2 separate regions of the Homo sapiens genome follow, and region 1 is linked to region 2. The links come from fine-mapping of genetic effects on gene expression. Tissue or cell type: spleen. Region 2 holds a variant in brackets; the other region holds the start of a gene. All regions are shown on one strand. Distances are from middle to middle.

Region 1 (5,372 bases), 46 kb after region 2:
GTGCTGGGAGATCTGCTGTTCTCTTCGGAGCTGGCAGGCAAGAACATTTAAGTCTGCTGAAGCTGCACCCACAGCTGCCCCTTTCCCCAGGTGCTCTATCCCAGGGAGATGGGAGTTTTATCTACAAGCCCCTGACTGGATCTGCTGCCTTTCTCTGAGATATGCCCTGCCCAGAGTGGAGGAATCTAGAGAGAAAGTCTGGCTACAGTGGCTTTGTGGAGCTGCAGTGGGCTCTGCTCGGTTCAAACTTCCCAGTGGCTTTCTTTACACTGTCAGGGGAAAATCATCTACTCAAGCCTCAGTAATGGCGGATGCCCCTCCCCTCAACAAGCTCCAGCATCCCAGGTCGACTTCAGACTGCTGTGCTGGCAGCAAGAATTTCAAGCCAGTGGATCTTAGCTTGTTGGGCTCCATGGGGGTGGAATCCCCTGAGCTAGACCACTTGGCTTCCTGGCTTCAGCCCCCATTCCAGGGGAGTGAGCAGTTACGTCTCACTGGCATTCCAGGAGCCACTGAGGTATGAAAGAAACCTTCTGCAGGTATCTCAGTGTCTGCCCAAATGGCCGCCCAGTTTTGTGCTTGAAACCCAGGGCTCTGGTGGCATAGGCACCCAAGGGACTTTCCTGGTCTGTTGTTTGTGAAGACCATGGGAAAAGCATAGTATCTGGGCTGGAATGTACTGTTCCTCACAGCACAGTCCCTCATGGTTTCCCTTGGCTAGGGGAGGGAGTTCCCCAATCCCTTGCGCTCCCTGGGTGAGGTGACGCCCCACCCTGCTTCAGCTCGCCCTCTGTAGGCTGCACCCACTGTCTAACCAGTCCCAATGAGATAAGCTGGGTACCTCAGTCGGAAATGCAGAAATCACCTGCCTTCTGCATTGATCTTGCTGGGAGCTGCATACTGGAGCTGTTCCTATTCAGCCATCTTGCCCAGGTCCCCCGGCATGTTTTTTTTTTTTTTTTTTTAATTGAGATGGAGTCTCGTTTTGCCCAGGCTGGAGTGCAGTGGCATGATATCAGCTCACTGCAACATCTGCCTCCTAGGTTCAAGCAATTCTCCTGCCTCAGCCTCCTGAGTAGCTGGGATTACAGGTGCCTGCCACCACGCCTGGCTAATTTTTTTATTTTTAGTAGAGATGGGGTTTCGCCATGTTGGCCAGGCTGGTCTTGAACGCATGACCCCAAGTGATCTGCCCATCTCAGCCTCCCAAAGTGTTGGGATTACAAGCTTCAGCCACCAAGCCCGGCCTCTACATGGCATTTAAAGGTGAATTTATTATTTTAAAATAGGTTATTTGCAACTACCCCTCTTTCCCACAAAACATCATCTGGTAAGGTGGCTAGACATAAGAACCTAAGTGAATTAGAATTACTTTCTGAAAACTCATTGAAGATCTCTGTGTTAATTGGAGCTATTCAGGTACATGACTAGAATTGGAAATCCCTGGCCTGTTTGAACTTTGAAAGTTCTACATTTTAGAGATGAGAGAGACATGTTTTTATAATGTTCTACATTTCTGACCCTGAGTGCTGATTTGGGTGAATAGACCATTGGCTTTACCCATAGGAACCTGGCTGCCTGAGTCAGCAACATCTGCTCTCTGGAGCCTACTGGGAGGCTGGGGGTGGGGGAGGAAGATGGTCTAGGCCACTGAGTGGGGCAGCAGAGCCTGGGGACTAGGAGTGGTGAAAATCAGCCACATTGAACATATGGGTGTCTTCTCAAGGAAATGTGACATATGCGAGAGAAAATGGAGTCTAGAAGGGATGAGGAAGAGGTGATCAAGGGAGTGAGGGGTTCTTGGAGCCAAGGTTCCCTGATTAAGGCTAGTCAGGGTGGGCCTGCATTTCCCCACCCCAAATGCCCGCAATACTCCTGTAGACAACTCTTAGGAAATTCAGCACTTCATTATACACTGCTTCCACTGGAAAATCCTGCCACGTAAGCAGCTTTGGGTCCCAGCTAGATTGGAGATGATCAGTAAGGAACCCTAATGCTACCAACACAAGACAACTAAGAAAAGTGCAAATATTCATGAAAATCGTTGCCAACTGTTTTGTAATCCTCACCACAATCCTGCAAGGTGGACAGCAGCATCCTCACCACTTTTCAGACAGGTAAACAAAGGCTCAGAAAGGAAACAGTACCTGGTTGGAATCAGCACTGAAGCTTCAGCTACCTGCCTGCAGAGATGTGCTCATCTAGCAGTTTCTAGGAGACTAGGCTGGCGGCAGTGCCTGCTCTGATAAGGGAGGAGGAGGGGAGAGGCTTGCTGTGGTGGCTTGTAGGGGGTGTGTGTGTGTGTGTGTGTGTGTGTGTGTGTGTGTCTATTTGTGGGGTCATTTCCAGGGCTACATGTGAGTTTAAGTGTGTGTATATGGGTTGAGATATGGTGTATATGGATATTTGTCGGTCAGTTCTTGGAAAGTGTGTATATGAGTGTGTGTTGAGTGGGGTTGGGGGGTTAGTCCCTGAGCCGTGTGAATATGTGGATGGGGGCACTCGTGAGGGCAAATGGGCTCGGATTTTGTGCATGATTGTGTGTGTGTGTGTGTGTGTGTGAGCTTGAGATTCCAAGTATGTGGGGGAGGGAGGGGGCGGTGTCGGAGATCAATCCCTGGGCCATGTGTTTATAGTGTGTGTGTCTGCCCAGAAGAGAGTGGGTTACTGGGCTGTGCACGTCTGTGTAGGGTGAGTGTGTGTATGAGGGTGAATGAGTGTGGGAGGTGTCATTCCCTGGTCCGTGTGTAAGAGTGTGACCGCGCACGCCTTCGTGTGTGTCCCGGGTGTGTGGGGTCGGGGCGGTGACGAGGTGAGGGGGACGCCGGCCGAGCCCCGCCCTCCGCTGCAGGTGGGCCGGCCCCGCGGCGGGGCCGGCAGCGCTAGCTGTTCTTGGCTCGCGGCCGCGCCGGGCTCGCAGGGCTGGGCTCGGGCTGCGGGGCGGCGCCGGGACAGGAAGCGGAAAGCAGCAGTGCAGCGGCGGCGGCGGCGGGGCTCTGCCTCTCCAGGAGCCCAGCGCAGGCCGCAGAGCCGGGGCCGCTGTGAGCCGAGACCGCGGGCCGCGGAGCTCGGGCGGCCGGCGCGGAGGTGAGTCCCGCGAGAGGCCGAGCGCTGCGCGGCGGCGGTCCCCGGGGCAGACCGTTGGCTGGGAGACGCCCCCACCTCGGACCCCGCGTGCCCCTGCGCCCTCCTCCCGCATTCGCCCCGCCGGACTTCGACCCCGGGTGGCCGGCTCCCGCCTCGGGCCGGGGGCTCCCTCCCCTCCTCCGGAGCGCTCCGGGTAGTGCTTCCTCTGACTCCACTCTTCTCCCCATGCGTTGCGCCCCTCCTGGCCCTGCCGTGCGATCTCCGCCGCACCCCACTCCTTGGGGTCCCGGGGTTCCCTGCTCACACCTCGGACGTCCCTTTCTCCCCGGGCTGGCCTTTGGAGTGCGCCCCTTCGGTGCGCGTGCCGGGGCGGCGGGCAGGCCGGCAGGGAGTGGCCGAGCGTTGGAGGCACCGGGCGGCTGCAGCAGCCGTGCAGGGCGGGAGCCGGGCGCGCACCGGGGTTCCCACCCCTGGCGGGGCTCGACCCGGGCGCCGCCTGGCCCTTCGCCAGGAACCGGGACAGAGCTGGTCTGTGTGCACACCTCGCTCACAAAAAATTGAGCCGGCCCTGGAGGCCTGGGGGGCGAGTCCGGTTGCGCCTCGGAGAGCGCAACAGGCAGGTAGGAGTTTACTTTCAAAAACGCCGGGGTGGAGCAGAGGCGCCTGGCGGGTCTCTGCCCAAGGTGTCCCTGCTGGAGGAAATCTCACCGCGCCGGGGCAGCCTTCGCCACCGGCAGGACCTCATTTCCTTCTGCAGTCTTTGAACTGCCCCAAGCATCGCGCCTAGAGAAGTGTGAAGCTTTATAAAAATTTAAACGCGTCCGTGGTGGCGGCAGCAGTGGGGCGGAGCCGCGGCCTGGCTGCTGTGTGATGAGCAGATGAGACTTGGAGCTGAGGAATCTGTTGCTCAGTTTTCACTTCTCCAAACCAGGTCTAATGCCCACGCTGCGAAGGTGTTGTGAGCTCTCTTAGATTCTCCTTAGGAAGTGTTAGAGCGCCTTATGATGATGATTGTGTAGATGGCCCATGCATTTTGTTAAAACTCTTGACCTGGCTTTGGTTAGAAATGAATGTATTCTTAGACACTTAGTCCAAAAGCTAACAAACTGTAAAAGAATCTGGCATTTTCACTGACATGTTTATAAATTTTACGGGGCTGCTGAAAAATATTATAACTTGTATCACCAGTCAACAATGCTAATTAGCATTCTCCCGTCAGTGGGTGGGTTGAGTACACAGCTCCCAGGCTCTGCAAGTGAGATGGCAGAAATTGTCTGAATACAGGGAGAGGTAATTAGCCATTTTCTGTAACCACTAATTATAGAGTTTTTAGGGTTGAATTAAATCAATGTGATATAGTTGGGGCTTTGATTTGTGGGAGGAAACTGTTTCTTTTTCCAGTTCAAAGAAATAACACGCTTCACCTATCCATGAGCATTAAACATTCCCAAACGTTGATGTCTCTCAGTATAATTAGTGAAAACACTCAGTGTGGAATTTCACTATTAACAATGTTGGCAGTGAGGCTTGCTTGCAACTTAATTTGTAAGTAAAATGGGAGAAGAATTTTGAGAGTGATATATTTGTAAGGACTGCTTGCCAAGCAGTACATTTTTATTGTCTTATGTATTAAGCAACAGGACAAAACCATAAAGGAAATTTAAAGTTTCTTTACCAAGCAACAATTCCATGTCACCCTTTGTTTGAAGGATAAATGTGTTGAATGAAGAAGGCATCCTCCCCTTCATCATCCCCTTAACACACTTATATACACACACTGTGCTTGCTACCCTAGGCCTTATCAGCTATTTTGGTGGGATGGGCCCTTGTCACATTGTGTTTTAATTGGAGGTCTCCACATTGGGGCTGTGAGCTCATTGGGAGTTAGAACTATTTTAGATCCATTTCTTTTCTCCTGAGTGCCCCACGATGCTTGGAACACTGAACCTGTGAGTAGAAGTTGAAATTGCAAAATTCTTAGTGGGGTTATATGTGGTTTGGGACAATTTGTGATTGTTGCTTATACTCCTCTATATAAACAAACAATTCTAGTAATTGCTACAGTGCTGTCAATTTTCTGTAGCTAAGAACACAGGTTCTGGAGTTAGACTCTCAACGTTTAAGCCCTGGCTCCTGTGGCAGTCTGGTTTCCCTAACTAACATGATATTAATGTCTTATTTTTCTTAAACACTTGTTATGCGGATTAAGTGAGATATTACATGTAAGTGACTTAAAACAGCATCTAACACATAGTAAACACTTGACAACTAGAAACTGTTAGACT
Region 2 (5,372 bases):
TCACTTTGCTGAGAGTTATTTTTTCTTTTTCCTTTTTGCCCTATAAATTCCATTTTCCTCACCCTTCTGTTGTGTTCGCAAGCCTAATCTTTCCTGGTCATGTGACAAGAGCCCAGTTTTAGCTGAACTAAGGAGAAAGTTCTGCAACAGTAGTATGCTGTTTCCTCTGCCTAAAATCTCTACTTAAACCTCTCCATCAGAAGGATTTCCACACCAAACCAAAACATCCTTCCAGACCCAGCTCAAATGCCTCCTCGGGGAAGCCTTCCCTCATTCCTTCTCTATCCAGAAGACCTCTCCCTCTGAGATTCTCAATGCACTTGCATGTTTTTAGTTATCTTGAGAGGCTGAAGGCAAAGAGCAGCACATGACACAACACAGGAGCTGAAAATAGGATGACTGAATGAATGACCAAGTAATGAATGAATGGCTAAGTGATAGATGAATGAATTAATGAAGAGATGGCTTGTGCTAAGAGAAGAGATAGCATTTGAATTGAGATTTCAAGAGGGATCAGATTTTCAAACCAGGAATAAGGTAGGTCAAGTTTAGGCTCTTGACAATGCTACACCTCTTAGCCTCGTAGCATTGACCCACTCACGATCTGCTTGCTGGCAGAGAGATTGTCCCACTTCTCCCAAAAATAAGGTTATGAAACCCTAGTGCTACAAGCTTGGGAGGCAGATCTGGGCTGGAATCCTCCATCCCTTTCTCTGGGGTGAGCCAGCAAGTTTACCTAATCTCTCTTAGCCCTCAATTTTCCTTATCTATGGAGTGAGAAAAACAGTATCCAAATTCTAGTTTGGTTGTTAGGATTTAAGTAGATAATGTCTGTAAAACATTTAGCTCTGTTACTGGCACAAAGTAAATGGTAGCTATTATATTATTATCATCACTTCCTCCCTGGGATCCCCAGGGCCTATGATGTTAGTAAGTGAAAGAGCTGCCTGACCTGGTTGCTGCCCTTTGACACATTTTGAATCCCCAGTGACTGCTTCTACTTGCCAAGCTTTTACCTCCAGAAGTCAGGGCCCATGATTTGTGATTTTTCCCCAGCTAGGTGTATGTGTTTTGGGGACCCTGAGGACCTGGGTGCCCCAGGTGACTGAGCCCAGCCTAGGAGTTTATTCCTGGAGAAGGCTCTGCAGTGACCCCAGTGCTTTCTGTGTGTGGATTTTGGCGGGGCAGCTGCTGCTGAGCCCAGGAAAGCTGGGCTGTGAGACCTGGCCCCTCTTGGGTGGACCACAGCCTCCTTGTGTGTCAGAGAAGAGCTGGCCCACCCACCTAGAGAAAGTGAAGGGAAAGCTGGGCTGCTCCAAGTCCAGGCCAGACCAGAATTTATTGTGTGGGTTTCTCTTAACCCAAAAGGTTTCCTTAGCGAGGAGAGGAGGGGAGGGGAGAGGAGGAGCTACAAGCTAAGACTCTTCTACCCAAGCACCTGCTCCATGTTGGATTCTTTGGGATCCTCTACAGCAGGGCCTTTCACGATTTGAGAATGGCCCAGTTCTCTTCTGTCTGTTGAAGCTTCTGCTACATTTTAAAGAAATGGATAAAAGCTATAACGGGATCATAAAAAGGGCAATTTATAAATTATTAATTAATGTTTTTGACAAAAAATGTATAACTGTATAATCACATTGGGAGAAAGTATAGGGCTCACATTTCAGGCTTTCTGGGCAGGGGAGACTCGGGCCCTCCTAGCCCTGCGCCTGCACACCTGGCTGTCTGATGTGGCCCTCCAGGTGGCGATGGACATGAGGGAACATGTGGTATGTCTGAGGAGAGCAGGCTGTGAATGTGAGAAGAAGGGAACTGGCTGTAGCAATACAAGGTGGGTGCCCCTGGATCTGGGTGTGAGGACTCAAGGACCCCAGTCCTTCCTTCCACAGCCTTCCCCAGCCTTGGAACCACTCCAGGCCTGTCTCCTGTTAGTTTGTAAGTGGTCGTTTCCTTGACTCTGGGAACGCAACCAAGTCCCGTTATTGCAGGATGGATTCCCACACCCTGCCCTGGGCCCCAGGAGTGCTGCTGTCCCTACCTGGACTATGGGTTGCTTTCTGGGGCCCTGAATATGGGAAGAGCAAGACTGAGGCATAGGGACCTGAGGAAAGAGAGGGTAGCCAGAATAACCATAAGGATTGTCTCAGGGCCTAGAGAATCTCTGTGTCGAGAAAAGCAGAAGTGATGCCCCTTGGGCTTTGTGTTAGGCGGATGGGTTGGGGGCAGCTGGGTGGGCTCGCCAGTCTAACCAGGCACAGAGCTGACTTGCTTCCTCTCAGACCCTGTGG[C/T]TATCTCTGGTCCAGAGAATCCAGTAGAAGCCTTTGTGCTTGTCCAGAGGCCCAGTGGCCCCCAGGTCTTCCTCTTCACTCCCCAGTCCCCCTCCATCAGCACTTCTCTGCCTAAGGAGCTCCAATAGTCTGATACCAAAGGGCCAGAAGATGCAGGTCCTCAATGCCAGGCAAGGGGTGCGACTTCTCAACAGTAGTGCTTGAAGCTCCAGCATGGATATGTGCAGATTGGTAGGAGGTCATGGAGACTCGGAGGTGCATGCAAGTCGTTGCTGTGGAAACAGCTCAAGTGTGAGGCGCTGGGGGCCAAGGGGGAAAGCAGCGGGTGGAGGAAGGGTCAGCTTCTAGTTCTGTGAGAGGCTGGGAGACTGTTTGAGCCTGGAGACAGGCGGCAGGCAGAGCCAGTGTTAGGCACCATTGCAGCACCATCAGGTCTCCTAGGACAGAAGAAGGGATTGCTTCTGTCCTCTCTGAAGATACCCTGACTGGGAACGGTGGTGGTCTGGGATGTGGGGGGACCCCTGGCCTCTTACAGCTCTGCCCCTGACTCGGTCTTGGGAAATCCACACCATTACTTCCCAAGACTGCCTGCTGGATCACTGTGGCTCAAAATGGGTGGCTTTGCAGAGAATTCTCCTTATTTACGCTCTGCCAATAACTGGAGCCTCTTCCAGGCAGACCATTGTGGGGGTGACTGATAGTGCCAGTGACTACAGTTTAGTCAGCCTGCTAGCTCTGTATTTCACTCCCCTTGAGGAGGTGCTGGCAGAAATCCCAGGAGCCCCATGAGGCTTCCTTTTCTATGCTGGCTGAGGAAGCCACAGCACTGGAAAATTACTGTAAATGTGCGTCTGGCGCCACCTAGTGATCGAGGCCCTCCTGCACCCTGTCAGACAGCTCTCTCAGGAAAGCAGTTTGCCTTCTTGCAGTGCACACTTCCTCAGGCTTTGGTGTGTGTGACGGTCACCTAGGATGCTTGTCAAAAATGAGGACTCCTGGCCGGGCGCAGTGACTCATGGCTGTAATCTCAGTACTTTGGGAGGCCGAAACAGGAGGATCGTTTGAACCCAGGAGTTCAAGACCACCCTGGGTGACATGGTGAGATCCCCCACAAAAATTCCTGGGCTCCAGACCCTGAGGTTTTAACTTAGTTTGTCTGGGGAGGAATCTAATAATGTGTTTTCCTAACTAGTATCTCAGGAATTTGTAAGGCAAGTCTCTGGACTACATTTTGAGAACCAGTCTCTTGAAGGACCATGCCTCTTAAGTGTCTGCTTTGCACAGATCATTATGTGCACTCACTGAGTTTTGAGAACTGTACTGAACACTCCTAAATCTGTATCTTTAGGCAAAGTCTCTTGAGTTTCAGCTGCTATTTTTTGACTGGTTGCTTTCTGTCTCCAGAACAGACGCACAGAATTATCATGGCCAGCTCTGAATTTTTAATCTCTTTACATCATCCCAAACCGCCAAATAACCCTTGTATTAGTCAGGGTTCTCCAGACAAACAGGATGTACATATATTTGGAAAGAGATTTATTAGAAAGAATGGGCTCATGTAATGATGGAGGCTGAGGGGTCCCAGGATCTGCAGTCAACAAGATGGAGACCCAGGAGAGCTGATGGTTGAGTTCTCATCCAAAAGCCAGAAGGCTTGAGACCCAAGAAGAACTGATATTTCAGTGCAAATATAAAGGCAGGGAAAGTTTGTGTCCTGGCTCAAGGCAGTCAGGCAGGAGGATTTCCCTCTTAAAGGAGGGGCAGACATTTTGTACTAATCAGGCCTTCAACTCATTGGATGAAGGCCACTCACAATTAGGGAGCGCAATTTGCTTTATTCAGTCTACTGATTCAAATGTTAATCTCTTCCAAAAACACCTTCACAGACAGTCCCAGAGATAATGTTTGACCAACTTGACCCCATGGCCAAGTCAAGCTGACACAAAAAATTAACCAGCACAAGTCTACTCCTTCTCAACTTGGCATGCATATGCATGTACTTGAACCATGCTAATCTCCAAACAAAGATGGTAACATGGTCATAATTTCACCTACACTGATACAACTGTCCTTTGTACAACAGAAAACACAATAAACCCTTCCACAGAGGAAGAAGCAATGTCTTTGAGCTATGTTCACTCTTCTCTGTGACATACCAAAACTTAAATACTATCATATAAAATTAGCAATACTTAAATACTATGACATAAAGTTAATACATCTTATGTTACATGATAAGGGGAAAAGAGGAGGAAAACAAAGATATTCAACACACACACACACACACACACACACACACACACGCATATGCACACGTATACATATCTTGTTACCTTCTTCCACTACCCATTACATATTTCCCTTATCTTCAGCAAGCACCTCAGCTGTTTGTGGTTCTTTACCTGGTGGGGTGATATAAACCTTTTGTCTGAAGGGTTTGAGCCATTAATAATCTTGTCTGAATTGCGTTGTTTTGCTTTTCCATTGACCTTCATCACAGAGCATGATAATACTAAGAGATATCCTAAGGGATCTACTATATTCCAGAATACTCCTCTTTACCTTCACTGTGGAGCAGTAGTCCAATTTCCCCTTGGTGTCCAGATTGATCATCCCAGCTGACACTGTAACTTCCTTCTTGGGCTGTTGACTTGGAGGAGCGCAACGTGTCTGAGTGTCATTCTTAACTTCCAGTTCAATAGAACCATTGTTGTGTCTCTTGGTGAAGCATTCCTCCCTTTGGAACAAACATCTCTTAGCCACCTGAGCATAAGGCCATAGGAACAGGAAGCAAACATTTTGCTAGTGGGTCATTAAGGGTAGTACTGAGTAGTGTCACTCCCATTTTCATCCCTTGATTCCTGAACCTATAAATCCTGGCTATGAGAAAAAGAGCACCATGTACTAGATGCTGATTCAGAGCATATATAGCTTTGTGGAAAACCTTGCCCTAACCCTGAAAGGTATTGCCACCTAGCTGGCACTGCAACTGAATCTTCAAAAGGCCATTCCACTGTTCTATCAAGCCAGCTGATTAAGGATGGTAGAAAACATGGTGAGACCATTGAGTTCCATGAGCGTGCA

Direction of the effects. Alleles are on the strand shown, and positions count from the first base shown. SD is a standard deviation of normalised expression in the study named.
For the expression in spleen of the gene that starts at base 2,971 in region 1, T is the low allele of the variant in region 2 and C is the other (moderate effect, 0.45 SD a copy in GTEx).

Evidence for each region.
Region 1: VANGL1 starts here. The variant in region 2 is fine-mapped to the expression of VANGL1 in spleen (GTEx, PIP 0.94).

Annotation. Positions count from the first base shown.
Region 1 is chr1:115,639,000-115,644,371 of GRCh38, forward strand. VANGL1 (VANGL planar cell polarity protein 1) reads left to right here and starts at 2,971. Exons shown (of 8, transcript NM_138959.3): 1 at 2,971-3,087. RefSeq lists a silencer at 2,703-3,692 and an enhancer at 2,828-3,586.
Region 2 is chr1:115,592,863-115,598,234 of GRCh38, forward strand. No RefSeq gene overlaps it. Among named protein-coding and RNA genes, the nearest start is that of VANGL1, 46 kb to the right of the region's middle. RefSeq lists an enhancer at 3,006-3,300. The variant C/T (reference allele first, on the strand shown) is at 2,289.